Linked DNA regions of Homo sapiens. The protein of the gene in region 3 purifies or fractionates together with the protein of the main gene of each other region. This does not show direct contact. Each region holds a gene or a part of one and is shown on either strand. Other genes may lie near its edges. The genes, in order: GXYLT1, EDEM1, CANX and METTL9.

The links.
Region 1: the proteins of CANX (region 3) and GXYLT1 purify together in Homo sapiens (affinity purification with mass spectrometry; 4 studies listed by BioGRID and IntAct, with this or other methods). This does not show direct contact.
Region 2: the proteins of CANX (region 3) and EDEM1 purify together in Homo sapiens (affinity purification with western blotting; 6 studies listed by BioGRID and IntAct, with this or other methods). This does not show direct contact.
Region 4: the proteins of CANX (region 3) and METTL9 purify together in Homo sapiens (co-immunoprecipitation; 3 studies listed by BioGRID and IntAct, with this or other methods). This does not show direct contact.

What each region holds. Positions count from the first base shown.
Region 1 is NC_000012.12:42,141,639-42,149,626, forward strand, and holds the start of GXYLT1 (glucoside xylosyltransferase 1), read right to left. Parts: upstream 3,237-7,988; 5' UTR 3,009-3,236; coding exon 2,788-3,008; intron 1-2,787. UniProt on the Homo sapiens protein: Glycosyltransferase which elongates the O-linked glucose attached to EGF-like repeats in the extracellular domain of Notch proteins by catalyzing the addition of xylose.
Region 2 is NC_000003.12:5,204,327-5,211,812, forward strand, and holds part of EDEM1 (ER degradation-enhancing alpha-mannosidase-like protein 1), read left to right. Parts: intron 1-740; coding exon 741-915; intron 916-2,826; coding exon 2,827-2,947; intron 2,948-3,766; coding exon 3,767-3,937; intron 3,938-5,848; coding exon 5,849-5,922; intron 5,923-6,793; coding exon 6,794-6,890; intron 6,891-7,486. UniProt on the Homo sapiens protein: Extracts misfolded glycoproteins, but not glycoproteins undergoing productive folding, from the calnexin cycle.
Region 3 is NC_000005.10:179,708,873-179,716,358, forward strand, and holds part of CANX (calnexin isoform d precursor), read left to right. Parts: intron 1-105; coding exon 106-187; intron 188-1,000; coding exon 1,001-1,193; intron 1,194-7,026; coding exon of another isoform or gene 7,027-7,128; intron 7,129-7,232; coding exon 7,233-7,422; intron 7,423-7,486. UniProt on the Homo sapiens protein: Calcium-binding protein that interacts with newly synthesized monoglucosylated glycoproteins in the endoplasmic reticulum. It may act in assisting protein assembly and/or in the retention within the ER of unassembled protein subunits.
Region 4 is NC_000016.10:21,616,356-21,623,841, reverse strand, and holds part of METTL9 (protein-L-histidine N-pros-methyltransferase isoform 1 precursor), read right to left. Parts: intron 5,978-7,486; coding exon 5,768-5,977; intron 1-5,767. UniProt on the Homo sapiens protein: Protein-histidine N-methyltransferase that specifically catalyzes 1-methylhistidine (pros-methylhistidine) methylation of target proteins.

The DNA.
Region 1 (7,988 bases), on a different chromosome or scaffold from region 3:
TGCCTTAAACATATAGTTTCTATTTATCAATTATACCCTACTAAAGCTAAAAAAATTTAAGTATTATCTACATTTTACAGGTGAGGAAATTAAAACACAGGCATGTGACACAATTTAGGCAAAGTCTCACAGCAACCAGAGCCAGAATACTGAGAACACGGGTTTATCTGACTACAAGACCCATGTATTTTCTGATTATTAAAATCATGGCTTCAAACAGAATACACTAACGGATAAGAGATTCCACTGAAAAACTGTTCCTTTCATTTTAAAGTTCTTACTTCAAGGACTCCAAGTCTTTTGTCGTCATGAAATTCTATACCATGAATAGTTTTTATAAGATCTGACCAATGGAACTTACTGGGTACAAACCTAGATCCCGTGTTTAAAATAAAAAGAGAGAAATAGTTATAATCTTTCAAGTAAGATGTTATCAAAAAAGGCAAAAATGCAATAATACCTAAGTACTACTGAAAAGAGGAAGCTGCTGGCTTGCCCCATAGCCCCATTGCCCACTGAGTCCACTATCTAAACTAGACCCTTATCTTTCTTTACAGAAAGAGCTCTTGTATAACACTCCAAGGATACAGTTTCTAATCCTCCTCCAACACTGATTTGCTTTGGATCTTGGCCAAATGATTTATACATGAAGAGGTTAGGGATTTCTATACCGTATCTCATGGTGGCCAAAAAAGTTAATTTTTTTTTTTTTTTTTGAGACAGGATCTTGCTCTGTCACCCAGGTTGGATTACACTGGTGCAATCATAGCTCACTGTAGCCTTGAACTCCTGGGCTCAAGTGATCCTCCCACCTTAGCCTCCCAAAGTGCTGGGATTACAGGTGTGAAACACCACATTCAGTTAATTTTTTTTTAATTTTTTTATTTTTTGTAAAGATGGGTTGTTGACGAGGCTGGTGTCAAACTCCTGGCCTCCAGCAATCAATCATCCCCACTCAGCCTCCCCAAATTCTGGGATTACAGGCGTGAGCTACCGAGCGTTGCCAAAAGTTGATTTAATTCTATGACATTTCTATAAAGATGTTATAAATGACGATATACAAAATAGAGTCCTGAGGTCTTAGTAATTTGCGTGATCTTAATCTAACCATAGAGTAAAACTTCACAATCCAACTTTTCCACGTTGTTCCCCTGCCCAAATGGTTTCTTATGCGCGCAAATGTGGTGACATGCTGTTCTTCATCACATTTTTACAAAGAGAGATAAATACACCTATAGTTCTAACTTAGATGTACGCCTCATTTAAAATAAAGAGTAATGCTACTCAAAGGACCTAAAAAAGTACAGTATTTCGGTTGACTCAATCCTGACACATAAAACTTAACGTTTCAGTAATGATTATATTGGATGTTTATTAAAACTGAGGCTATTTTCGAAAATTTCAAATAATTTTATTAAAATTAGCTGGTCAAGCAAACAAAATTTGTAAATTTCTGTCACAAAATAAAATATCTAAGACCAAGGCACTAAAAATGTGATGTTAACATCAGTCTAATTTCATTCAATATTTAATTAAAATGTTGCTTCCTTACAATTCTACCCCATATAAAAATAATTCCTTTTCCATAATTGCAAATGCTTCACAATAACATACTAGGCCATAAACAGTTTAGCTTCAACCTGTCATTTTTCACGAGCTCATTCAAGTCTTCAGTGACTGCTTTCTCCCAGGACAGACAACTGAGGGTCCTGATGTAGGAATTACCCTGACTGTAATCAAATCTCAGGGTAAAAACATGACAAGTCCGCTTTCCACGCTGCTCCTCTGCCCAAACTTTCCCCTTTCATTCTGGGAATGACCATCGACTCTCAAAATGATGTTAAACAACAGCCCACAACTGATCTATACTCCCTCTTCCGACAAACCCTATACTTCTCTATATCAAAGCAGCATTTGCCAAGTCTTGGTAGGGAGCACTTCAGGTCATTCCCAGAGAGATGCCCATACATAAGGTGGAAGTGTCCATGTTGCAAGGCAGTGCAAACGCTCAGATTTCAAGCATTCATAATGCGTTGACAGAAACATTTTTTTTCTATTTAAATCTCATGTTGATTCCCACTCTGGCAGTGATTACGTCCTAAGTCATTACGTCGCTTTTTAAATACCAATTTGTCAAGAAAGGTAACTCCATCCCATCCAACAACAGACTTGAGCACGCCAAGTATCGCTCATTTTTCTTAATTTGCTCTAAGTTTCTTAATAAACTGAGTGTTTCCAAAAGAAAATTTCACAACCCGCACAAATGCCATTTCCAAATTTAACTAACCATGGCTAATACTTAGAAGTGTAAGCGTTAACACAGGAAAATCAGCATGAGGGACAAAATACACACACATATACACTCACACACACACACACAATCCTTAAACACTGAACTAGGGCGCCAGCCTCATGTTTAAATATCTCAACTTGAACTCCACTGAAACAAGAGGAAATTCTCACTAGCCAGGCAGCAGTAAGGCTTTTGTGGACACCTCTTATTTTCAAAGAACCCTCTTTTTAAAAAGTTGAAAATTAATTTCTAACTGCTTTAAAGGGCGCATGACTGGGTCAAAAGATAAACACAGAAAGTGTAGGACACTCTCAGGCGGGAGCAGCGCAGGTTTAGCCCCGGCCGGAGGGGAAGGAGGGAAATGAGTGAGGGGTCAGAGACAGGAGGAAAGACGCGGGAGACGCGGCACCCACCGGCGAGCAGCCCGGGCTAGGCCGAGCCCGCGCCCAGCGCCCCGCGCCCGCCGCGTCCCCCACACCGGGAACTGCCCGTACCTGTCCGACACGCCGGGATGCGCTGCGGGGCCCGCGACGCCGGCGCCTCTCACGGCGCCGCGTCCGCCGCCCGCGAGCCAGGAAGCCACCGCGGCCTGCGGCTTCCCGCCACCGCCGCCCGTTCCTTCTTCCAGGGACACGGCGAGCTGGCTGAAAGCGTAAAGGAGCGAGCAGAAGCCGCAGGCCACACACAGCACCACGACGCGCAGGTAGCGCCGCATCGCCCCGGCCGCGCTCCTCCTTCGCCGCCGCCGCCGCGCCCGCCCCGACGAACTGGAGCGGAGGGAGGGGCACCGCGCAGCCGCGGGCGCAACAAGTTCCTCACCCGCAGCCGCCGCCGCCGCCTTGCGCCCGCTCCCTTCCTTCCCTCCCCGCCCACCACCTAGGCGAGCGCAGTCGCGGCTCCGGAGCCGAAGGACTACCCGCCCGGAAGCCTGGACACCGCCTCTGCCGCCGCGCGCTCAAGGGTCAGCGGCAGCGACGCAACCCCGCCCCTCCCCCGGGCGGGAGGGCTGGACGCGCCGGCGCAGTTCGCGTGGGAGGGACGCAGGGCTGGCGCGCAGAGGGTGGTGTGAGTGCGCGGAACGCGGCGCGCCTGAGGGCTATAGCTAGCGCAGGCCGACGCGCAGGTGAATGGGAGCCCTGTGGGTCTCGACCGCCGAGAGAGGGGGAGCGAAAGCCTCAGGGCTCTGGAGGCAGTTGACCTAAATTCTAATTATGGTCCTTCCACATGGTAGTTTGTGACATTGGGCAACCTAAATTCTCTGAGCATGTTTCTTCGTCCCTAAAATGGAGCTACTATCCTCATCATGGGGTGGTTGTAAAGATTAAACTGTTTAACGCTCGAAAACCGCCTAACACTTAGAAGACACTTGACTAGGCCAGTTTCCTCTCCATCCTCCCCCAGCCTCTAAGTTTCTGTGATACTATAATGTGCACGAGCCATTTTCACCCCGATAAGCTCATTGCTTCGTGTGTTTGGTATGCGGACCTTACCTCTTGCCTCCCAGCAGACAGTGAGTTCCTGTAAGGCAGGGCTCTTCCCTTTGACCTTTTTGACCTCCCTCACAACTCATTATTTTCATGTGCAAAACAATTAGTATTCTCTCCACAGAGCTTCTTTCTTCCCCAGTTCTTCTCCCTCTTCTTCTGTGTTTCCACTACGTTCATTCATTGACCATTTATAAAGCATCACTTGTGCCAAGCTCTGTGTGAGTACCTAGGGGTATAAAGAGGCCTAAGTGGAGCGTGGGTGGGACAGCGGATACTTGTAAATAAGCGCAACGCAGTGATAACAGACTTAAGATCCAGGCCTGTAAGGGTGTGGGCATACACACAAAGGAACAATCAGTTCTATCTGTGAGTATGGTCAAGAGAGACTTCATAGCAAAGGTGGCGCTAGAGTCTTGAGTCGGGTAAGGGAAGTAATTCCAGGCTGAAGGATCAATAAACAGGCTCTTGTGTAGGGAACTGTTGAGAAGTTTGATACCACCAGCTAAGTGAATGCAAGAGAGGGTATGATGAGCGATAAGCGCGTAGAAGGGGCCAGATATTTGAGTGCTTTGTTTAGCACACCAAGGAGTTTGAATTTAATCTGCAAGACATTAGTGAACCATTGAAGGGTTTTTAAATAGGGAAGTAACATGATCACAATTGCATTTTAGAGAGCAGATTCTGGCTGTAGTGTGGAGGCTGAAACAGAGAGAGGAGAGATTGGAGGCAGAAAGCAGCACCAGTGCCAAAAAGTGAGGGAAGGGATACTTAAAAATACACACACACACGAACACACATTCATGGGGAAAAATCATGCGTTTAACTGCTGAAATTGCATCTGGGGCGTTGAAAAGTTTGGCCATGAGATACAAGGTGGGGAAATGCTGCGCAAAATAGTAGCAGTCTCCATTTGGATCCTTGGCTCCCTATACCAAAAAAGTAGTGGTTCTGTGACCATGATAAAGTCACTAAACAAATTTAAGGTTCAACTTCCTCCCCTTCTTGCTTTACCTGATAAAAAATGAACATTAGCATGCTATCAAGATGTGTAAAGAGAATGAGAACATACATTTATGCATTCAATAAACATTTATTGAACATATTCTACATGCCAGACAAGGGGCTCTGATGCAGAGTATTCAGAAATAAAAGGAGTGTACTGCTCTCAAAGGGAAAACAGGCAAATAGAAACCACAAGTATACTAAATTAATACTTCCACTACACCTTACACTTCTTAGAGAAATGAAGATAAACTTAACGAAGTATCCAGAATGATAGGAAAAGCATTGATAAGAATGAAAATACCTTTTGAGAGAAAGCTGAAAGATATGGTACCAAGAAACTAGAGTAAGAGCTAGTACTCAAAAAATGTTTAATTTAAAAGATACTAACTATAACTCTTCTCTATTTCAACAAAGAAACTAAACGTAGTAATAATTAAGAATAACTCCTTGACCCACAGATGGTTAAAATAATGGAATGGCAAAAAGAGAAGGCAAGCAGTTTTCATTTCTGCAACAATTTTATGAAAAGAGCAAATCAGGAAAAATAGCCACTCATTTATTGACGTCAGGGTACTGGACCATATCATCCTTTTAGGTTCCTTCTAATCCTGTAATTTTCTGTTGAAAAATTATATAAACCATTCCAAAAATAGAAATGATTTTTCTATTACTCACACATCATCTTAACTGGCTATCTTGGAGGAGCTGTGTGCATGCTGGCATCCCCTCTAATTATTAACCGGATTTACACGTTGCATTTTGATATTCCTAAAATTAAGTTAATGAAAGCGCTTTAACATATTTGATGTCACAACAGTTAGGTGTTTCTTCCATGTACTGCGTGAAGGTATGTATTCCTAAATCTATTTTTTTCTCTCTATACCAGTCTCTTAATTCTCTAATGATAGACTGATATCCAAATTTTTAATCCATGTTGACCTTCATTCATCGTATCAAATAGGTAAATTTAGGTGGAGAAAAAGTAATTTAAAATTATCAATATTTGTTGTTTAGGAGATAGAGATCTCCATGATCTGGAAAATTCTCTGATTCAGAATTAAGCCACATCTCAATAATTTTATATTTAAAAGATTAATCTTGATTTTTCGTATAGCTCTTAGTACATCCTGGATATATAATAGGCGTTCAATTAATGGGCGTTTTCTTTTTTTTTTTTTTTTTTTGAGATGGAGTTTTGCTCTGTCACCAGGCTGGAGTGCAGTGGCACAATCTCAGCTCACTGCAACCTCCGCTTCTCGGGTTCAAGTGATTCTCCTGCCTCAGCCTCCTGAGTAGCTGGGACTACAAGCGCGTGCGTGCCACCAGGCCCGGCTAATTTTTTGTATTTTTAGTAGAGACGGGGTTTCACCATGTTGGCCAGAATAGTCTCTATCTCCTGACCTCGTGATCCACCCACCTCGGCCTCCCCGAAGTGCTGGGATTACAGCGTGAGCCACTGCGCCCGGCTCCCATTTTCATTTTTTTAAAATGTCTTCTCTAAATCAGTCTAGAGCAGATTTGGGGGCCTGCTCAGCATTTTCTTTACACTTCTACCTTAAGTACTTGATTCCTTAAAAAAAAAGACATGGAGAAAGTTAAATTCTACACCTTTTCAGAGTAAAATTCAAAAACTCTTTTTGCAGGAAAAAAAAAAAAACCTTTTTGCATGACTTCCATTTTATAAAGGTCTATGCATAATGGAATTTAATCCTTGGCTGGGCACGGTGGCTCACACCTGTAATCCCCGCACTTTGGGAGGTGGAGCTGGGAGGATTGCTTGAGGCCAGGAGATCAAAAACAGCTTGGGTAATATAATGAGACCCCTCTTTCTACAAAAAAAAAAAAAAAAAAAAAAAAAAAAAAGTTTAATTTAATCTTTATAGCATTCCTATGAAGTAGGAGATGTTATTCTATTCTAAAAAAAAAACAAAAAAAACAAAAAAAACAAAAAAAAACGAGCCTGATAGAGATGTGACCACAGATAGCAAGAAAAATTTAAAAATAAAAACAATCCCCCCCCAAAAAAAGCAAACAGCCTGAAATTCAGAAATGTTCATTTACCACATGGTTAATAATAAGATCCAAAATTCAGATAGAAATCCTCTAAGATTTCTATTTCTTGTTCTTTTCCATTACGCCATGCTATCTCACTAGGAACAAATAAGCACTAAATGGAGTGGTACAAATTCAAATTGAAAGCAAAAAGGGAACCAATGTTATATGAAAATCTTTCAGACTGATCTTAGAGTCTAAAACAACATTTACAATCAGTGAAATGCAAGTCAGATTAGTAGCAGAGCACAAAGAATCAGAAACTCAGGCTAAAAGTAAAATTCATTCTCTCCGCTAGTGGGCTTCTAGTATATTTCCCCATTTTCCACAGTCCAATTCCTAGAGACTTTGTTGGACTGGAGGAAAAGTTGGAAAATAATGTTTAGTTTGCACAAAAATCTCATTTTATGTGTTCATTCAGACCAGTAACTGTAGGGAAAGAGTCAGAGGAAGGATGAAAGAGTAAAGTGATGCTCTTCATTCTTAAAAACACGTTGCTACAGGCCACAAGAGTAGAAAAAGAAGTAGTGAAAGATTAAAAAATAAATAAATAATTTAAACTGAAAAAAGAAAAGCGGTGGAAAACTAATTAATGAGGATGCCTTAACCTCCTATATGATACCAGAATTTCGCTGACATTTCCATCTACAAGGTAGGGAAAGTGTACAGTGGGCTAGGTGGGAAAGAGAACGAGGAATATCCTCTGGATGTCCCTCTATTTCTCCCTGGTTCAAACTTCAAGAACCCTGCATACCGATTAGTAAAACAGAATATATTATTTTTAAAAAATAGTAACGGCCAGGCGCAATGGCTCATGCCTGTAATCGCAGCACTTTGGGAGGCCAAGGCAGGAAGGTCACTTGAGCTCAGGAATTCAAGATGAGCCTGAGCAACATGGTGAAAACCCGTCTCTATAAAAAATGCAAGAATTAGCTGGGCATGGTGCTGTGCATCTGTGGTCCCAGCTACTCGGGAGGCTGAAGTGGGAGGATCACTTGAGCCCAGGAGGTGGAGGTTGCAGTGAGCCAAGATCACACCACTGAATACCAGCCTGGCTGACAGAGTGAGACTCCATCTCAAAACAAAAACAAACAAACAAAAAAAATTGTCAGTAAAATATAAAGCTAGATTTGTAGGGAAATTTAGTCATG
Region 2 (7,486 bases), on a different chromosome or scaffold from region 3:
TTTTGTTGTTGTTTTTATTATTAAAAAAAATTATCTTTTCCCTTTTCTTTTTTTTTTTGTCTTTTGAGACAGGGTCTCCCTCCATCACCCAGGCTGGACGGCAGTGGCACAGTCTCTGCTCACTGCAACCTCTTCCTCCCAGGCTCAAGTGATCCCTGGGATCAAGTGAACCCCCCATCTCAGCCTCCTGAGTAGCTGGCACTACAGGCACCTGCCATCGCACCCAGCAAATTTTTTGTATTTTTGGTAGAGACAGAGTTTCACCATGTTGCCCAGGCTGGTCTCGAACTCCTGAGCTCAAGCGATCCACCTGCCTCGGCTTCCCAAAGTGCTGGGATTGTAAGTGTGAGCCATCATGCCTGGCCACTTTTTCTTTTTAAAATCATCTTTTTTTGGATAAATTCCCAGGAATGGCAGTACTGGGTTAAAGTCTGTGAAAAACTCTTGGGTTTTGAAATGCATCGTCAATCTGGAAAAGCAAAATGAGAAACCTATTTTTATTTTGCATTAAATGTTTATCCCCATGTTTGTGTCAGTAAATGCTATATATTTAGAAGATGTCTAGGCTAAGTTAGTGATAAGACTGATAAAAATGTTAGGTCCAAGCAACCACCTCCTTCTCCTGTATGCCAAGGATAAAGGTGCTGAGGAGCAGTGTGGTTGGAGTAGGAGGCCTGTCTCCATTCATGTCCTCCCCGATGAGACAGCTGGGACCTCAAGTGCCTTGTTTATTTTTGCAGGCAATGTCGTGAACATTCAGACGGGCCACTGGGTTGGAAAGCAGAGTGGCCTGGGTGCCGGGCTGGACTCCTTCTATGAATACCTCTTGAAATCTTACATTCTCTTTGGAGAAAAAGAAGACCTAGAAATGTTTAATGCTGCATATCAGAGTATTCAGAACTACTTAAGAAGAGGGTATGTCTCCCTAACATCTCCTCTGTTGCCTTGTAAAGCAAATAGAATGCATTCTGAAGCGTTTGTATTTTTTTTAACACACAATCACAGGGTCTGTTTATCTCTGCCCTCACCTTACCACCTCTCCTAGTTTGTCAGTCATCTGGGGGCAAAGAGCTGTGTTATCTTTCTGTCGCTGCATAGCATAGTACCCCAGAACCTAGTGGCTTAAAACAACAAGCATTATCTCATGAAGTTTCTTAGGGACAGTAATCCAGGAGCAGCTGAGCCAGTCATTCTGGCCCAGGATCTCTCCTGAGGTTGTTGTCAAGCTGGTGGCCAGGGCCACAGCCATGCTAAGGCCCAATGGTGCTGGGAGATCCCCTTCCAGGCTCACTTTGGTTGCTGGCAGTCTTCAGTTCCTCTTTGGCTGTTGGCTGGAGGGCTCAGTTCTTTGCCAAGGGGCCTCTTTGTAGGTAGCTTATGGCCACTGGCTTCCCCCAGAGTGAGTGATCTGAGAGAAAAAGAAAGAGGCCAAAATGGCAACCACAGTGCTTTCATGACTAGTCTGGGAATGATATACCAATACTTCTGCCAGACCATTAGTCACCCAGATCAAAATGATACATTCAGTGTGGGAGGGGGCTGTGCAAGCGTGTGGCTCGCACGGATGGAGGTTCTCGGGGGCCGTCTTAGAGACTTGCTGCTACTACAGGGGCTGACACATCCCAGTGTTTAACTGTGGCTTTAATTGCAGATAGATCTGCAATGCAGGACAATGTTTTGGTTCTAATACTTTACAAAGAACTGTTAGGATTGGTTTTTATACTTGGTGATAGAAAGGACAGTTACCACATTTTTTTTTCTCTCTGAGTTTGTTTAAAACATTATTCACCATTTTCTGTTGTTCCTCCAGGATGACAGGAGAGAGAGAGCCATTTGAAGCTACAGTGGCTTCTACGTAGTGTCACTCTCTTTCCCAGATCTTTCTTTTTTTTTTTTTTTGAGTCAGAGTCTTGCTCTGTCACCCAGGCTGGAGTACAGTGGTACGATCTTGGCTCACTGCAACCTCTGCCTCCTGCGTTCAAGCGATTCTCCTGCCTCAGCCTCCTGAGTAGCTGGGATCACAGCCGTGCACCACCTTGCCTGGCTGATTTTTGTATTTTTAGTAGAGATGGGGTTTCACCATGTTGGTCAGGCTGGTCTCAAACTCCTGACCTCGTGATCCACCCGCCTCGGCCTCCCAAAGTGCTGGGATTACAGGTGTGAGCCACCACACCTGGCCCCCAGATCTTTCTTTGTATGTATTTCTATGTTAAGTGTCCAGTTTCAGTGCAAGTTATAGCTACTGAGCTTCCTGCTTGGATTTTCTTGGGTCCATTTCTACATTGCTGTTGTAGGAACCACTTGTATGTGCTATGTTTAAGTAAGGGGCCTTTTGAGTGGAATTTATTTATTTTTGCTTTTCAAAGCCACAAACTAAATTGAGCAGTAATCCCCAAGGGTCTTGCTCTGATGCATTTCTCCAGGCCCATGCTGTAGGACATTACTAGAGAAGAGACTCTTTGTACCAAAAGAACCAAGCTTTTCTGCTCAGGTGAAATCCAGCATAGGCCCATACTATATACTGAATTCTCTTATGTGGCAGGGCTCTTAAACCCAAAGCTCAAAGTGCTTTCTGCAGAATACTGTGAAATCCTGACATATTACAATGGCTGCGTTAGGAACTTTGATCCTGTGGAAAATATTATCTTCTGCTAGAGTCTAATGTAGATAATTAAAGGCAGTCTGTCTGCAGAGGTTTAAGGAATGAGTTAGGAGAAAAAATTAATGTTAATTCCGTTTAAATGAAACTACCAGCAGCTGCTGGAGAGGTAGAGATCTGTCAGTGAGCTTTCTTTTCACCACTGAATGTGCTGCTTGGGTTTGCAGGCGGGAAGCCTGCAATGAAGGAGAAGGAGACCCTCCACTCTATGTCAACGTGAACATGTTCAGTGGGCAGCTGATGAACACCTGGATTGACTCTCTGCAGGCCTTTTTCCCTGGACTGCAGGTATTTTGCCATCAGATTTCCTAAGAATAACCAATCACCAGAAAGGGCTTCTCCCTCCTTTTCTTTCTTTTTTAATACCCTGAGCATTCTCTGTCTCCTTTGGATTTGGGAGGTCACTGACACTATACGTCTTCATCTCTCTGTTTGAGAAATTAGTCTCCAGAATATTGAACAGAGCCATTCCACACAAGTGCAAAACCGTGCTTGAGAAGTGACTGTGTGTGATTTTTGTTTTTGTTTGTTTTTGTTTTGAGATGAAGTCTTCCTCTGTTGCTCAGGCTGGAGTGCAGTGGCGCAATCTTGGCTCACTGCAACCTCCGCCTCCTGGGTTCAAGAGATTCTCCTGCCTCAGCCTCCAGGGTAGCTGGGATTACAGGCGCCTGCCACCACATCCGGCTAATTTTTTGTACTTTTAGTAGAGACGGGGTTTCACTGTGTTGTCCAGGCTGGTCTCGAACTCCAGGCCTTAGGTGATCTGCCCGCCTCAGCCTCTCAAAGTGCTGGGATTACTGGCATGAGGCACTGTGCTGGGCTGTGTGAGATTTTTGGATAATCCATCGCTCAGTTGTTTATTCCTTGTTCATGAGTACACGTAATCTCTTTTTCTGTGTGCAGCTCACATCAATTTGGCATTAGTGGCCAGATAGGGAGGGCATTTATTTGTCTGGGTTGTCACTTTTGGGTTGGTTTTGTCTTTAACCGTATGTGTAGGTCAACTAAGAACTCGGGGGCAGAGGAGAGCCCAGGCAGGCCCTTTGTGCCATGTCTTGTCACTCTAGGAATGGTATCTCAGCCTGATGACCTGTGTCCTCTCCTTAGGTGCTGATAGGAGATGTGGAAGATGCCATCTGCCTTCATGCCTTCTACTATGCCATATGGAAACGATATGGTGCCCTCCCTGAGAGATATAACTGGCAGCTGCAGGCCCCTGACGTTCTCTTCTACCCACTGAGACCAGAGTTAGTGGAATCCACATATCTCCTCTACCAGGTACTAGAGTTGTGTTTTTTTTTTTTTCCTTTCACTGCCTCCCCTGACCCCAGCAGTTCATTCTTAATGAACATTTGCTGAGTGATTTAGGGTTATGTTGTTTCATAGTGACTCTGATTGAGTTACCCCCTATCCGTAGTCTTGTTAGTGTTCAGTGTCATTCGTAACTTCACAGGACAGAGAAGGCATCTGCAGTCAAATATGTTTTTAACCTAATATTCTACAAAGCTGAATCATGTTTTTACCGTAGGACTTATAACTCACATCTTTAAGTATTCATGAGGAAGATTTGGTACTAAGGTGTTTTCCAAATGTATGTGACCAGAAGACCCGTTTTTAGGATGCAATTCTGCATCAGTGTACTGTGGAGCCCCGGTCTGTGTAACAACTATTCAGACAAAAAGAAAATTCATTTTCTTGGTTGTAAAGGAAATCATCTTGGATTCATCTGGATGCCTGTTTTTGTTTAATGTTTGTGTTTGTGTGTGTGTGTGTGTATATATATATACACACACACACACACACATATATATGTAATAGTGTTCATCCTTTGTGAAATTACTTCAGTGGTAGAGGGAATGTGACTTTAACTGTGAAATGTCTTCTTCCTGACGGTTGAAGCCAGGTATTTATACTTCTGTGTATGCCATACATATATACACACTGAGAGTCCTCCTCCATCCACATGCACAGCAGCACGAGTGGTTAACTCACCAAGAAACTGGCCTTGGTGAAATTCAGTAGGCCGGTAACAGATGCCCACCGTGGGCCAGCCCTAGCAAGCAGGGCCTGAGTTTTAGAAACTCTGGTAGTGGGGAGTTTTAGAAACTCTGGTAGTGGAGCTAACACTAAGATTTGAATTTATTTATTCAACAATTTTTTTATACCAAATCCTTGCCGTTTGCTTCAGATGAAAAAAGGGGAAAGAAATCCTGTGAAACTGGTAGTAGTCCTCATGCCTAAAAAGGGACTTCATGAGTTTTAGGTAACCTCTCAAAAAAGGGAAAAGATAATAGCCACCTGTTTGGCCTTTCTGAGCCCAGTAGAAAGACTGTACACGGAGGATGGCGTGCCGGTTACTGGCTGATTTCTTCTCTTAAGCTTAGTCCTGTGGCCTGTGAGCTTACTCCTCTTTGTTTCTGTCACTGCTTCTTTCATGTTTTCCGTTTCTCCTTCACGTTGACAGAGATGTCTTGCACTCTTCAGCTTTACCCTCCGAAGCCACACCCTGTGCACTTTTAATCTGGAGACTGCTAACCTTGTTGTTTGTTGCTGCAATCTGGCACTAGGCATGAATTAAAGATCCCCAACTTTTAAACTGTTTGTTGGATAAAGGCTTATCTTCCCAGAGAAGTTTTTCTCTAGTAAAACCATCTAAGAGTATGTGTGAGAAGAGTAGGCAACTGAGGACTGATTTCTCAGGGTGATTAGAAAGGAAAGGGTGGCGGCCTCCTTTCATACTTCGGAAAGTCTTGTTCCCATCAGCCTTTCCTCATGGTGCCATAACTGGAATGGCGGCAAGGTCCTCTTTCCTGTGCCTGTGTCTTAAGTTTCTGGAGAGTTCTGAGGCAAGATAGAAATTGGATTTGTTCTCAGATATGGTGCTGTCAGCGTGGGCATTGTTTTGTTTCTAATCATGATGGCAACCAAAGTAGACTATTGTTCTACCCTGGAACAGATGGTCTTACCCCTGGCTAAAGTTAACCAAATCACAGGTACTCTTTGATGTGAACTGACGGAGTACCTTAGTCCTCTAACCATTGTGACCCTGCAAGATAAATGACCTGGGCCCTGTTTCTTCCTTTGGCTGGCGACTCGTCTCCATGGGGAAGCCCCGCAGTCACCATGATGTTTGTCGATGGCATGTCTTCCAAGCCCATGCTGGATCACATTCTCTCGTGTTCTCTCTAGGCAACCAAGAATCCCTTCTACCTCCATGTAGGAATGGATATTCTGCAGAGTCTGGAAAAGTACACAAAAGTCAAGTCAGTTTTCTAAGTTCCTACCTTTTTCTGTCAGCCACTTTTAATTTATTTCAAATTGTTTTGGGGAAATATCCTAGTTTGCATTTTAATTTATAGAACCAGGTCATTAATGTTACATTTACAGGGAAATTGCTTACCTTTTGGTGTAGTAGAACCTTTCCATTGTACTGAGAACTGCCCTTTCTTTTCCGTGAGGTTCTAGCAGATTATGGGTGTTCATTCTAACTTCTTTCCCCTAGTTATATAATAACATATACGCTAAAATGTTTAGGGAGTACAGAAAATATAAAGCAGTAGAATATTATCACTGTAATCTCCACATACAGAGAAAACTGTAGTCAGTATTGAAATGTATGTACTTATAATCTTTTAAATATTTTTATATATGATGTGTGTATATATGTATATATAAGAAACATACTCTATATTTCAATTTTGTGACATGCTTTTTTTTACCTGCTGTAAGTTTTTTTTTTTAAGTACTATCTTAAATAATAAGTCAATACTCAAATAATAAGTCAATTCTCAATAATAAGTCAATTCTACAAGTATTAGGACTAGAAATTTAAATTAGTCCTTTTACATTTGTTGCCGGTCATTTTCCTGGTGCCACGTTATGCTTCTGGCCAGCACCCCGCCACCACGCCCACACCCTCTAACTCACCTGATAATTTAGCAGCCAAAAGCACTTGCTAAGTAAATTTGCAAACAACCCAGGCTATAAAAAAGGAGAGCCCCTCAATGTAAACATAGTTTCATATGGTGTTGGATGACTGGTTGATTATTCTGATAAGAGAATGTTTCTGCTTCTTAAGTGAATCAGCAGGTGGGAAGGAAGAGAGGCAGGACTGACCAGATGATTGTTTTGTAGGTGTGGGTACGCCACGCTGCATCACGTCATTGACAAGTCCACAGAAGACCGGATGGAGAGCTTCTTTCTCAGTGAGACCTGTAAATATTTGTATCTGGTATGTGTGTTGCAAGATGAACCCAGGAATATTTAGTATTGCTTAGAGCAAGCATTCGCATAGTCTTCCATCTGACAGGTACTTACTGGCTAAAGCTATGTGCTGGACATTGTGCATTCCCAGGATGCAAACGCTGTCAGAACCAAAGGATATTACTATCTTCTTTCATGGTTTCCAACCTTGTTGAAAAGTCATTTGTCAAGTAAACCAAGAACTGAACTTATGATTACAAACTGTGGGAAATCCTGGTAACGATTGATACAGAACCAGTGTTAGTTCTGTATCTAACTACAGGTGGTCGGGGAAGACGCCTCTGAGGAAGAGAGCTGTGTTCATAATGGCTTCTCACTTCTCTTGATGTATGTGATCTTAGCCAAGACCTGCAGCTCAGCCTTGTCTCTGTCCATACACACATCCTCAGGCACATGAGTGAGTGAGTGTGTGTGTGTGTGTGTGTGTGTGTGTGTGTGTGTAGAGAGAGAGAATTTCTGGACCTGGACGAACCCTTTGGTATTACCTAATGTTCATATGTTCATCATTTCCCTCACAAGAACTACAGCCTACACAGAGGTCAGGCGACTTGCTCAAAGTATGGC
Region 3 (7,486 bases):
ACCTATGATAAAACGTGACTAAGATGAGGGAGAGAGGAAATACATTAAGAGAGTTTCGATCTTTCAAAATGCCATACAGTTTTCTGCTTTTCTCTCTGATATTAGGTATGAGGTTAATTTCCAAAATGGAATAGAATGTGGTGGTGCCTATGTGAAACTGCTTTCTAAAACACCAGAACTCAACCTGGTATGTAATTCCCATTTCTGGAATGTGGCTGGACACCCACTATTACCTTGTAAGAATTTTGTAATTGGGCCGGGTGCAGTGGCTCACGCCTGTAATCCTAGCTCCCAGCACTTTGGGAAGCCAAGGCAGGCGGATCACGAGGTCAGGAGATTGAGACTATCTGGCTAACATGGTGAAACCCCATCTCTACTAAAAATACAAAAAATTAGCCAGGCGTGGTGGCAGGCGCCTGTAGTCCCAGCCACTTGGGAGGCTGAGGCAGGAGAATGGCATGAACCTGGGAGGCGGAACTTGCAGTGAGCCGAGATTGCGCCACTGCACTCCAGCCTGGGCGACAGAGCGAGACTCCATCTCAAAAAAAAAAAAAAGAGAATTTTGTAATAATTGTGAAAATAAAGGCTTCCTCCCCTGCTGTTTAACTCTTTTGATGAGTTGGGAAAATTGACTTTGACGCTAACGTGCTTTTTATTTGAAGTGTAAATTACAAAGTTGTTACCAACTGTTTTTATCTGAATTTCTGGTTTTGCTTCTGTGTAAGTTTTAGTTTTGGCAAGCTTATTTCTTTGTTTTATGAGGAAGCAATAACTGTCTAGATGTGTGCATTACTTTTTTTTAGACACTTAAACGTTATTTTAAATTTACTGATGATTGCTGGTTATTCCTTTTTACTAAACAAACTTGTAGTTAGCTTTTCCTTTAACTGTCACTAATATATTTGGAATTTTATAAGAGGAATTATCATACACTTTTGAAACGTTGCTTTTGAACACTTTGAGTACAGTGACTTCAAATAATCCTTTTTTGTTTTTGAAGGATCAGTTCCATGACAAGACCCCTTATACGATTATGTTTGGTCCAGATAAATGTGGAGAGGACTATAAACTGCACTTCATCTTCCGACACAAAAACCCCAAAACGGGTATCTATGAAGAAAAACATGCTAAGAGGCCAGATGCAGATCTGAAGACCTATTTTACTGATAAGAAAACACATCTTTACACACTAAGTAAGAAAAAGCATTAGTTTGGGGGCTTATGGTATTACATATATATCATCCATTTAATTTAAAGATTGTATATCTGGCCGGGCACTGTGGCTCACGCCTGTAATCCCAGCACTTTGGGAGGCCGAGATGGGCAGATCACCTGAGATCAGGAATTCGAGAACAGTCTGGCCAAAATGTTGAAACTTCACCTCTACTAAAAATACAAATATTAGCTAGGCATGGTGGTGCACGCCTGTAACCGAAGCTAGTTGGGAGGCTGAGGCAGGAGAATTGCTTGAACCTGGGAGGGAGCCAAGATCATTGTGCCACAGCATTCCAGCCTGGGCGAAAGTGAGACTCAATCTCAAAAAAAAAAAAAAAGGCTGGGCGCGGTGGCTCACACCTGTAATCCCAGCACTTTGGGAGGCCGAGGCGGGTGGATCACAAGGTCAGGAGATCGAGACCATCCTGGCTAACATGGTGAAACCCCGTCTCTACTAAAAATACAAAAATATTAGCCGGGCGTGGTGGTGGGCACCTGTAGTCGCAGCTACTTGGGAGGCTGAGGCAGGAGAATGGCACGAACCCGGGAGGCAGAGCTTGCAGTGAGCCGAGATCGCGCCACTGCACTCCAGCCTAGGAGACAGAGCAAGACTCCATCTCAAAAAAAAAAAAAAAAGATTGTATATCTGGAGAGTACCCCAGCCTCCAAACAAGAAGAATCTCAGCCTGGTATGGTTGCTCATGCGTGTAATCCCAGCACTTTGGGAGGCTGAGGCGGGCGGATCACTTGAGATCAGGCATTCGAGACTAGCATGGCCAACATGGTAAAACCCCGTCTCTACTAAAAATACAAAAATTAGCTGGGCGTGGTGTTGAGTAGCTGGTGTAATCCTAGCTACTCGGGAGGCTGAGGCAGCAGAATTACGTTAACCCAGGAGGCAGAGGTTGCAGTTGAGTCAAGATTGTATCACTGCACTCCAGCCTGGGTGGCAGAGGAAGATTCTGTACCCCCTCCACGAAAGAAAAGAATCTCTTCACTTTAGTATCTTAGTTGGGAAATGACCTTAATTTGTCAGCATTAAAAGAAGCTTCTTGGCCACGTATGGTGGCCCACACCTGTAATCCTAACACTTCGGGAGGCTGAATCGGATGGATTGCTTGAGTCCAGGAGTTCCAAACCAGCCTGACAACATAGTCAGACCCTGTCTCTACAAAATCTTAAGAATTAACTGAGTATAGTGGCATGTGCCTGTAGTTTCAGCTACTCAGGAGGCTGAGGTATGAGGATTGCTTGAGCCCAGGAAGTCGAGACTGTAGTGAGCCATGATCTTGCCACTGCACTGTAGCCTGGGTGACAAAGTGAGATGCTGTCTCAAAAAACAAAACAAAAAACCCAAAAAACTTCTTTTCCACAGGAACTGAGGTTCGAGATAATTTTAAGAATAGAATAGGTGTTTTTGGCCAGGCATGGTGGCTCGTGCCTATAATCCCAGCACTTTGGGTGGCCGAGGTGGGCGGATCACCTGAGGTCAGGAGTTTAAGACCAGCCTGGCCAACATGGTGAAGCCCCATCTCTACTAAAAATACAAAAATTAGCCGGGCATGGTGGAGGGTGCCTGTAATCCCAGCTACTCAGGAGGCTGAGGCAGGAGAATTGCTTGAACCCTGGAAGCGGAGGTTGCAGTGAGCCAGATTGTGACACTGCACTCCAGCCTGGGCGACAGGAAGACTCTGTCTCAAAAAAAAAAAAAAAAAAATTGGTATTTTTTGCTGGACATGGTGGCTCATGCCTGTAATCCCAGCACGATGGGAGGCTGAGGCGAGCAGATCACTTGAGGTCAGGTGTTCAAGACCAGCCTGGCCAACATGGTGAAACGTCATCTCTACTGAAAATACAAAAATTAGCCGGGTGGGGTGGTGGGCGCCTATAATCTCAGATACTCAGGAGGCTGAGGCAGGAGAATCACTTGAACCCGGGAGGCGGAGGTCACGGTGAGCCAAGGTCATGCCATTGCACTCCAGCCTGGGCAACACAGTGAGACTCCGTCCCCCACTCCAAAAAAAAAGGTGTTTTTTTTTTTTTTTTCTACAAAGAGCTTTGCTGATCTAATTTCTTCCTTTTTTTTGTTGTTGTTGTTGAGAAATGTTGAATAATAGAATAAGTTATATTTATAATTATACATAAATCCAATAAAAATAGTTTTTCAGAAGTATCTTGTAGTTGAACTTATTTGGATGCTCCAATACCTGGACAATTGACAATTGAGTTGAATCATTTTGATACAGGGTTTTTTTTGGTTTGTTTGTTTATTGAAGCTTTTCCTGCTAGTTTGAGATCATAAATAGGCATGCCTCTTTCTGAAGAATATAATAACCTTTTTTTTTTTTGAGATGGAGTTTCACTCTTGTTCCCCAGGCTGGAGTGCAATTGTGTGATCTTGGCTCACCACAACCTCTGCCTCTTGCATTCAAGCGATTCTCCTGCCTTGGCCTCCCAAGTAGCTGGGATTACAGGCATGTGCCACCACGCCTGGCTAATTTTTTTTTTTTTTTTTTTAGTAGAGATGGGTTTTCTCCATGTTGGTCAGGCTGGTCTCAAACTCCCGACGTCAGGTGATCTGCCCGCCTCAGCCTCCCAAACTGCTGGGTTATAGGCGTGAGCCACCGCGCCTGGACTACCTTTTTAATTTTTTTGAGGCGGAGTATTGCTCTGTCACCCAGGTGGGCGTGCAGTGGCGTGATCTTGGCCTACTGTGACGTCTGCCTCCCGGGTTCAAGCGATTCTCTTGCCACAGCCTCCTGAGTAGCTGGGATTACAGGCTTGTGCCACCATGCCCAGCTAATTTTTCTTTTTTTTATTATTATTATTTTTTTTTTTTTCCAGCTAATTTTTCTGTTTTTAGTAGAGACCGGGTTTCACCATGTTGGCCAGGCTGGTCTCGAACTCCTGACCTCAAGTGATCTGCCCGCCTCAGCTCCTGAAAGTGCTGGGATTACAGGTGTGAGTCACTGTACCCAGCCTAGAATATAACAACCTTTTTTTCTTTTTTTTGTGACGGAGTCTTGCTTTGTCATCCAGGCTGGAGTGCAGTGGCGCCATCTTGGCTCACTGCAGCCTCCGCTTCCCAGGTTCCAGTGATTCTCCCGTCTCAGCCTCCCCAGTAGCTGGGATTACAGGCACACACCACCATGTCCAACTAATTTTTGTATTTTTAGTAGAGCCTTGTTGGCCAGGCTGATCTCAAACTCTTGGCCATCTGTTGATCCGCCCACCTCGGCCTCCCAAAGTGCTAGGATTACAGGCGTGAGCCACTGAGCCCAGCTTAACCTTTTTTTGTTATTTCCAAAAGTAATACATATTTAAGGTATAGAAATTCAGAAGCCATAAGTAAGCAAAAAGAAAACACTTAAAGCGAGGGAGAGGGGTTGAAGACAAGTTGGTTAATTGGTACAGAAATAAGGTAGAAGGAATAAATTCTAATATTTGATAGTACAGTAGGGAAATTATAGTTAGAACAATTTATGGTGTATTTCAGAAGAGCTGGAAGAGAATTGTACTGTTCCCAATACAAAGAAAAAGTAAATGGAGCCAGGTGCAGTGGCTCAGGCCTATAATCCCTGCGCTTTTGGGAGGCTGAGGTGGGAGGATCACTTGAGGCCAGGAGTTCTAGACCAGCCCGGGCAGCATAGTGAGACCTTGTTCCTACAAAAAAATAATTATTCAGGCTTGGTAGCATGTACCTCTAGTCCCAGGTGCTCGGGAGGCTGTGGTATAAAAGGATCCCTTGAGTCCAGGATTCGAGATTGCAGTGAGCTATGATTGGGCCACTGCACTCCAGCGTGGGTCACAGAATGAGACTCTGTCTCTATAAAATAGAAAGAAAAGGTAAATGTTTAAGGTTACAGATATTTCAATTACTGTGATTTGTTTGTTTTGTTTTGTTTTGTTTTGTTCTTTTTGTTTTTTTGAGATGGGAGTCTCTCTCTGTTGCCCAGGCTGGAGTGCAGTGGCCTGATCTCAGCTCACTGCAACTTCTGCCTCCCGGGTTCAAGCGATTCTCCTGCCTCAGCCTCCTGAATAGTTGGGACTATAGGCATGCGCCACCATGCCCGGCCAATTTTTTTGTATGTTTAGTAGAGTTGGGGTTTCACCATGTTGGTCAGGCTGGTCTCGAACTCCCAACCTCAAATGATGGGCCTGCCTCAGCCTCCCAGAGTGCTGGGATTATAGGCATGAGCCACTGGGCCCGTCCAATGACTGTGATTTGGTCATTACACATTATATACATGTATCAAAATATCACACGTACCCCGAAAATATGTACAAGTACGATATGTCAATAAAAACATACACAAAGAAGTCACTTAAAATTATCTTAAACATCAGCATTGTGATATATATTTGTCAATATGTGTATATACACATATACAACTTTACATGCTATATCTAACTTTTTTATTTTTTTATTTATTTTTATTTTTTTTTTTGAGACGGAGTCTCGCTCTGTCTCCCAGACTGGAGTGCAGTGGTGCGATCTCCGCTCAGTGCAAACTCCGCCTCCCGGGTTCACGCCATTCTCCTGCCTCAGCCTCCCGAGTAGCTGGGACTACAGGTGCCCACCACCACGCTGGGCTAATTTTTTGTATTTTTGGTAGAGACGGGGTTTCACCGTGTTAGCCAGGATGGTCTCGATCTCCTGACCTCGTGATTCGCCCGTCTCGGCCTCCCAAAGTGCTGGGATTACAGGCGTGAGCCACTGCGCCCGGCCCTTTTTTATTTGAGACAGAAACACTGCAATCTCCACCTCCCAGGTTCAAGCGATTCTTGTGCCTTAGCCTCCCAAGTAGTTGGGTTTACAGGTGTGCACCAACATGCCCACCTAGTTTTTGTATTTTTAGTAGAGACAGGGTTTCACCATGTTGGCCAGGCTGGTCTCGAACTCCTGGCCTCAAGTGATCCACCTGCGTTAGCCTCCCAAAGTGCTGGGATTACAGGCATGAGCCACCACACCCGTTTCTTAACAACAAAAGAGTGTGAAGTTCTTCCTCACAGAAATATTCATTTTCATTATCACTGACACAGCAGCATAGGATTCCTTGTTTGGATGTGCTGTAACTCAGTCTCCTGTGTATTAGATATCTAGGTGTGGAATCTGGGCTTTAATATACATCACACTTAAGATGCTTTTATGGGGCCCATGTGGCTGGGCACGGTGGCTCACACCTGTAGTCTTAACACCTTGGGAGGCTGAGGTTGGGCAGATTGCCTGAGCTCAGGAGTTTGAGACCAGCCTGGGCAACATTGCAAAACCCCATCTCTACTTAAAATACAAAAAATTAGCTGGGCATGGTGGCACGGGGCCGTCTGTAGTTCCAGCTACTGCGGAGGCTGAGGCAGGAGAATCGCTTGAACCTGGGAGGCGGGCGTTGCAGTTAGCCGAGATCACACCACTGCACTCCAGCCTGGGAGACAAAGCGAGACTCTGTCTCAAAAAAATAAAATAAAATTTTAAAAAATGCTTTTATGGATTTAAAATTGTTTTTTCATTCTCCATGGGAGTTAAAAAGTAGAAAGTAGAATCATGAGTGGACATGCGTTTTAATAAATTGGAGGTTTGTGTAATTTCAGTAACGTAATAATACCAGCTCTATTAAAAATGAAGAAATGGACCTTTTGTACTGGGAAGTAGTTGTAAGTCCACGTATTTGTCTTCTCACTGGTGTATATGTGTAAGCCCAATAATTGTGTTAGTTTATGTAGTTTCTTGTTTTTTTTGTTTTTTTTTTTTAGTGTCTATAAGTCAAGTCTTTGGTGTTAAAGATTTTAACTATCATTTGCTGTAATTCTTAGAAAGCCGAGGGACTAATCATTTATGTTTCGTGCATAAGGAAATGGGCGTTAGCTTCCCCAAGACCCCAGGAGCCAGGCATTGTTCTTACCCCAAAGCCTCAGGTCAGACTTCTGCTGCTTCACGTTAGAAGTCATGATCTTTTGTATTATGGTAAAGGGAGCTTGGAAAATTAAGTACTTTTAATTCCATTTAATGTTTCTTTCAGTCTTGAATCCAGATAATAGTTTTGAAATACTGGTTGACCAATCTGTGGTGAATAGTGGAAATCTGCTCAATGACATGACTCCTCCTGTAAATCCTTCACGTGAAATTGAGGACCCAGAAGACCGGAAGCCCGAGGATTGGGATGAAAGACCAAAAATCCCAGATCCAGAAGCTGTCAAGCCAGATGACTGGTGAGTCTTGGGGAACTGTCTTCAAGTGTAAGGGAGCATTTCATATATTCCATGTGGCTTGAAC
Region 4 (7,486 bases), on a different chromosome or scaffold from region 3:
CCGAGATCACATCACTGCACTCCAGCCTGAGGACAGAGCCAGACTCCATCTCAAAACAAAACAAAACAAAACAAAAACTATACAGAAAAGATAAAGCCCAGGACATCCTATTAACATTAAGAGCATGGTTTAAAAAAAAACCACTCTCGATCCTCAATCTCTCACTTTCATACACACGTACACAGAACACAGAGAACATTTTCAGTCCTCTACAATGTTGTTATCTCTAGAAAGGGGGAGTTTTTATATCAAGAGTCTTTGTTAGCCACACAATTAGGCAATTTTACAAATTACTTACTCCTGCTTGGTTATACCAATCAGAATGTGGTAGGTGAGATATGTTATGATAGAGACAGGTAAAAAAGGAAACATAAAAAAAGGATCTTTGGTAAACAAGTCTTTAGTAATGTTGAGCAGATACAGTAAGATAGCTCAGAAAATTCTAAAAGTATAATGAGGGTTGTTTTGAAAACCTCATTAGCATAATGATATTTAGAGCATTTCTGAATAGCAGAATTTTAAAAACACAAAGCACTTAGCTGCATTTTCTTTTCAATCTATATTTTTGTCAAACTAAAGCCTCTTCCAAATAGCAGCCTAACAAACTTCCAGGGACTAGTCAGATTCCTTACTGGTGCAGGTGTTTCATTGCACTAAATACTGTTTGAAATAAGTAGAGCATTCAGGCTTTAAAATCACTTTGTTGTACTAAGTCAACTGTAATAGCAATTTTGGAAATTCAATTTAGCTCATTCCAAGAGTTTCCAAACATTACTAAGAAGACTACTTTCAGAACAAAAATGTCATCAATTCCCATTCTAAAAAATGGAAATGAATAAAGAAAGGACTATTTGTATATATTAACGCCTTAGCTAAGCAGCCAATTTAAAGACACAAATTGTAAAACACAAATTATATATTTGATTTTTAAAAACAAAACAACAAAAAAAATCTGATGTCTATCTGCAATGAAGCAGAAGCCAAACATCATCAGCATGTTCTAATCTAGAATAATCTCACTAAACCTACCTCAGAATGAGTTTCAGATAGGTAGCCTCTGTGTTGGTAATTTTGGAAGAGAAATATATGCTCATAACACAAAAAGGTGACTAACACTAAGACAGTTAAATCTATACCTATAGAAGCTCAAGTGCATTCTTACTTCTGTTTTGTGATTTTTATTTGTAAACTCACTCAGTTCCACTGATGAAGACAAATTGCTTAGCCCCACTAAAACTGCGTATTAGCCCAGGAATCCTAACAAGTTGTCAGAATTTTCCTTTTTCTAAAACAGTATTTCTAAACCTAGAATGAGGGTATCTATTCAAGTGATTATTATTTTCAAGAAAATGAGTTAATACTTCCAGAAGGATGTAAAATATATTTCTCCTTAGAGAATGATAAAGCAGTCAGGTGCAGTAGCTAACATCTGTAATTCCAGCACTTTGGGAGGATCGCTTGAGCCTAGGAGTTTGAGACCAGCTGGGGCAACACAACAAGACCCCATCTCTATAAAAAATTAAAAATAGCCAAGGATGGTGGCACACACCTGTAGTCCTAGCTAAGCTACTTGGGCAGCTGAGGCAGGAGGATGGCTTGAACACAAGAGTTTGAGGTTACAGTGAGCTATGATTGTGTCACTGCACTCCAGCCTGGACGACAAAGCAAGATCCTGTCTCAAAAAAAAAAAAAAAAAAAAAGGCCAGGCATGGTGGCTCACACCTATAATCCTAGCACTTTGGGAGGCCAAAGCGGGCAGATTGCCTGAGCTCAGGAGTTCAAGACCAGCTGGGCAACACAGTGAAACCCCATCTCTACTAAAATACAAAAACTTAGCTGGGCGTGGCAGCATGCGCCTGTAGTCCCAGCTACTCGGGAGGCTGAGGCGGAGGCTGCACAGTAAGCCGAGATGGCACCACTGCACTCCAGCCTGGGCAACAGGGAGAGATTCCGTCTCCCAAAAAAAAAGATGCCTTGCCATCTCGGGTTGGGAGAGCTCTAAACTTAGGAAATAAGCAATCTGTATTTTGATAATTCCTAAATAAAAAATGAAACACTAACAATATAAAGAAAACTGTCTTGCTGTAAAAATCAAAACCACATCCTTTAGTTTTACAATTGGGTTTTCTGGCATAAACAATGACAACTTGCGAATACAAAGGAAAAACCTGGCCATTTTCTGTTTATTGACCTATTTTTGAAATGCAGAAACTTTGGCTGGGCGCAGTGACTCACACCTATAATCCCAGCACTTTGGGAGGCCAAGGCGGGCGGATTGCCTGAGTTCAGGAGTTCGAGACCAGCCTGGGCAACACAGTGAAACCTTATCTCTGCTAAAATACAAAAAATTTAGCTGGGTGTGGCGGCATGCGCCTGTAATCCCAGCTACTTGGGAGGCTGAGGCAGGCTAATCACTTGAACCTGGGAGGTAGAGGTTGCAGTGAGCTGAGATTGTGCCACTGCACTCCAGCCTGGTGATGGAGCGAGACTTTGTCTCAAAAAAAAAAAAAATTACAGAACCTTTATTTAAAAAGGTGTGTTTTGCTCATGCCTGTAATCTCAGCACTCTGGGAAGCCAAGGCAGGAGGACTGTTTGAGGCCAGGAGTTCAAGACTGGCCTGGTCAACATAATGAAACTCCTGTCTCTACACACACAACACACAAAAACACACACACACACACACACACACACTCTCTCTCTCAAATTAGCCAGATATGGTAGCAGGCACCTGTAGTCCCAGCTACTGAGGAGGCTGAGGTGAGAGGATCACTTGAGCCCGGAAGTTCAAGGCTACAGTGAGCTATAATCACGCCACATGCTCTAGCCCAGGTGACAGAGAGAGACCCGTCTCTAAAAATATATATATATAAATTAATAAAAAGCCTGTTTTTCATGGCCCAGATATTGAAGAGAAATAGAAAATAGCTCTAATCTCAAAAGGAAGAAAAAAATGTAAAATTCAGCTGAAAGTCTGCCTTGCCATCTTGGATTGGGTGACCTCTAATCTTAGGAAATAAAGATACTACTTCCTCATTAAAACCTCAAACTGCACCAATAGTCACAAAATTTACCACTTTTGTGAAAATGTTTTCACTTCATACTAATATTATGAAAGGAATGCCAATCAGTATGAATTTCCCATGCAGGTCAAACTGCAGATTTTTGGCTTATGTGCTGTATATTAGGGAAAAAATTAAACCAAGTATTTTTTATGTGGTAGATATCTTTACATACCATGTACACTCCAGATATATTACTAATTTCAAACATCTGAAGTTTCCCTGAAAATTCCATTTAGGCACTTAGCATCAAAGCAAAAGAAGGCTGGGGCGGTCAATCATCTGAAGATGGGTTTAACACCTTCCTCTTCGACCCACTTCAAAGCATGGATTTTTTTAAGGGGGGGAGGTGGAATCAGATTAGGAATTCAGCCTGACTTAAGCCACTGTTATAACAAAGGTCAAAGCATTCTAAGTTTTGAAATGCCGAATTAATCTCTAACTGAAGGAAAACATGTCAATTATCACCATGCAGACCCACCAGAACCTTATCTGAGACAGCTTGCTAAAGCTAAGGGGCTTTCAAATCACTCAGTTCAAACTCACACCTTCCTTATGTCTCTTCCTATAACAACCCTAACAGCAATTTAAACACTGACAGTGATAAGGACTTAAACAGTTCAAGCTAGGAAGGTCGATCTCCCTAAGCTGTAACTCAACTTCTAAGGCGTAGCTGTGCCTGATTACACCAGAGACTATACCTATTCCTTTCCTTCCATATAAAAATCCCACAGCGTATCTGTTCACAGAAATCTTCCCTTCTCCAGGCTAAAAATCTCCATGTTTTGCAAATGCTCAAACCAGTCCTGCTCCAAAAGCTACACTGATGCTCTATCTCTAGGATTAATCTGTAAAAGTAGAAACATGTGGATAGGAAAGTGAGTGATTACATAATTTCTTCTCCTTTCTTTCTAAGGCTAACCAGACTTCCAAAAATATCACAGAGAAAGGCTGACTCCAGCTCTACCTCCCTGATTCTGCACTGAGCCAATATATAGAAATCTCCCAATCAATAAATCATACTGAAATAAGAATACCCTTCTTCCAGCCGGGTGCAGTGGCTCACGCCTGTAATCCCAACACTTTGGGAGGCCAAGGCAGGCAGATCACGAGGTCAGCAGTTTGAGACCAGCCTGGCCAACATAGTGAAACCCTGTCTCTACTAAAAATACAAAAAAAAAAAAAAAAAAAAAATTAGCCGGGCATAGTGGCATGTGCCTGTAGTCCCAGCTACTCAGGAGGCTGAGGCAGTAGAATTGCCTGAATCCAGGAGGTGGAGGTTTCAGTGAGCTGAGATCACGCCACCGCACTCCAGCTTGGGCAAGTGAAACTTCATCTCCAGAAAAAAAAAAAAGGCCCTTCTTCCTAGTCTTTCAAACTCCAGATGACCTTAAAACCAAGATTAACACTGATGACTATAAACTAAAAGCAAAACAAAACAGAAAATAGCAAGTATTGTCAAGGAGTGGAGAAACTGAAACCCTTGTACTACATTGCTGGTGGGAATGTAAAATGGTGCAGCAGCAATGGAAAAGTATTGCAATTCCTCAAAAAATTAAACCCAGACTTAGCCATGTGATCCAGCAACTCCACTTCTGGGTCTATACCCAAAAGAAGTAAAAGTAGGGGCTCAAGTCGGTATCTGTACACCCATGTTCATAGCAGCATTATTCACAACAGCCAAATGGTAGAAACAACCCAAATATCTACTGACAGATAAATGGGTAAACAAAATGTGGTACATGCATACAGCGAATTATCATTCATCCTTAAAGAAAATTTTGGGCCAGGCGCAGTGGCTCACACCTGTAATCCCAGCACTTTGGATTACTTGAGGTCAGGAGTTCGAGACCAGCCTGGCCAAATAGTGAAACCCTATCCCTACTAAAACTACAAAAAAATTAGCCAGGCATGGTGGCATATGCCTGTAATCCCAGCTACTTGGGAGGCTGAGGCAGGAGAATTGCTTGAACCTGAGAGGTAGAGGTTGTAGTGAGCCGAGATCGTGCCACTGCACTCCAGCCTGGGTGACAGAGCAAGACTCCATCTCAAAAAAAAAAAGAAAAGAAAAGAAAAGAAAATTTTGGCCCATGGTACAACATGAGTAAACCTTGAAGACATTATGCTACATGCGATAAGCCAGTCACAAGGAGCTAATGTATATAATTCCTCTTATACGAAATACCCAGAATAGTCAAATTCATAGACAAAGTAGAATGGTGGTTGTCAGGGGTTACGAGGAGGGAAAAATGGGGAGTTATTGTTTATTGGGTACAGAGTTTCCGTTTCGGAAGACAAAAATTTCTGGAGATGAATAGTGGTGATGATTATGCAACAATGTAAATGTACTTAATACCACTGAACTGTACACTTAAAAATAGTTACAACAGTAAATTCTATGCTATGTGTATTTTACCACTACTTAAAAAAATTTTTTTTGAGAATGCCACATTCTGATTAGGGAAGAAGTCCCTTCTTCTGATCTGCCTTTTCCAAGTTGTCTCTCGCTAGTGCTTTTCTTACCTATAGTGCCAACCCCTCCGCTCCAGAAAAATACTGCTACCAGAAGATTATTTCTCTACATTTCCAGTTAATTATGTATGAGATGATTTTTTAAATTTCTAATCATGGAAGATCATTTTTTATTCATATCCTTTAAATAATATACTTTCAAGAAGAAATGCATCTAAAACCAAGAAAATTATACCTGTATTTCTTTTTCTGAAGCTGCCATATCATAGTTTCAGAAAGCTCAGTGGCATAGATTTCTTCAAAATGAGGGCTCATGATTTTTGTGACTTCTCCATCTCCAGCACCTAAATCAAGAAGTCTGTGGGTTTTCCAGTCTGGATTAATTTTAAGCAGTCTCTGAAACTGATCTGGTGAAAACACAAACATTGAGCCTCTTCCTAGCAACCTGAAAGAAAAAAAGGACAAAAATGGAAGTGTCTATGCAAATTAAGCACCCCTCACATACACACACAAAGTGAATATAGTGACTCAGCACCAACAACCATAATCACTTATTACATGGTTAAGATTTTTTTTTTTTTTAGACAAGGTCTCACTCTGTCACTCAGGCTGGAGTGCAGTGGCATGATCTCGGCTCACTGCAACCTTCGCCTCCTGGGTTCAAGCGATTCTCCTGTCCCAGCCTCCTGAGTAGCTGGGATTACAGGCATGCACCACCACACCCGGCTTATTTTTTGTATTTTTAGTGGAGACAGGGTTTCACCATGTCGGCCAGGTTGGTCTCGAACTCCTGACCTCAGGTGATCTACCCGCCTCGGCCTCCCAAAGTGCTGGGATTACAGGCATGGGCCACTGCGCCTGGCCTAATTTTTTTTTTCTTTTTTTTTTTGAGACAGAGTCTCGCTCTGCCGTCGCCCAGACTGGAGTGCAGTGGCACGATCTCTGCTCACTGCAAGCTCCGCCTCCCAGGTTCATGCCATTCTCCTGCCTCAGCCTCCTGAGTAGCTGGGACTACAGGCGCCCGCCACCACACCTGACTAATTTTTTGGATTTTTAGTAGAGAAGGGGTTTCACCATGTTAGCCAGGATGGTCTCGATCTCCTGCCCTCGTGATCCACCCGCCTCTGCCTCCAAAGTGCTGGGATTACAGGCATGAGCCACCGTGCCCAGCAAAGATATTATCTTTTATGTCATTTCTATGATTAGAAGACAAAGTTAATAAAATAAGAAAATGCCTCCAGATACCATTTGTCTTTGGAGTTGCAAATAATGCCCCAAAAAAGCATGGGAGGAGGGAAATAAAAGGTGGAAAGTGGAAAGGATGACAGGGGAAGGAAGAAGAAATAAGTAAGAGATGAATGTGAAGAACTTAAGTCAAAATAGGAAGGAAAAGTGGAAGGAGTAACAGAAAACATGTTTATCAGTTGAAAAAGATGACAAGCTAACACAGCCAGACCACAGTAGCAGAGAAACCAAATAGGAAAAAAAAGTGATTTCAAATATGGAACTAAACCATGGATCAGGAAAAAAGAGCTTTAGTATAACAGATTTTTAAGAGACACTAGAGAAAAGAGGGAAAAGAGTGGTCCTTGTGATGTCGGTTAATATGCATTAAAGTAGATTCGTACTTATGTCAGTTTATATGGTTACAACTGTCTGGGTCCTATTATTTCTAAAGGTCCTAGAAAACACTCAAAACCATAGTGATGCCTTTGAAAAAAGAGACTGAGGGGAGTTTAACTGGAGATTGAAGAGAACCCTCAGAAAAGCAACTATAGGTCCAGCCAAGTCTCATGGAAGCATCACTCTGGGAAATAAAGCGCAATCCCTATTTAGGACTTGTTTTCTAGCTCTGAAATTCTAGTTTATCTAGGACAGGGATTCTCAACCCTCCTTTAAGCAGCAGAACCCTTTCTTTAAATGAAGTGGAACTCACAGATAACATAAGATCCTA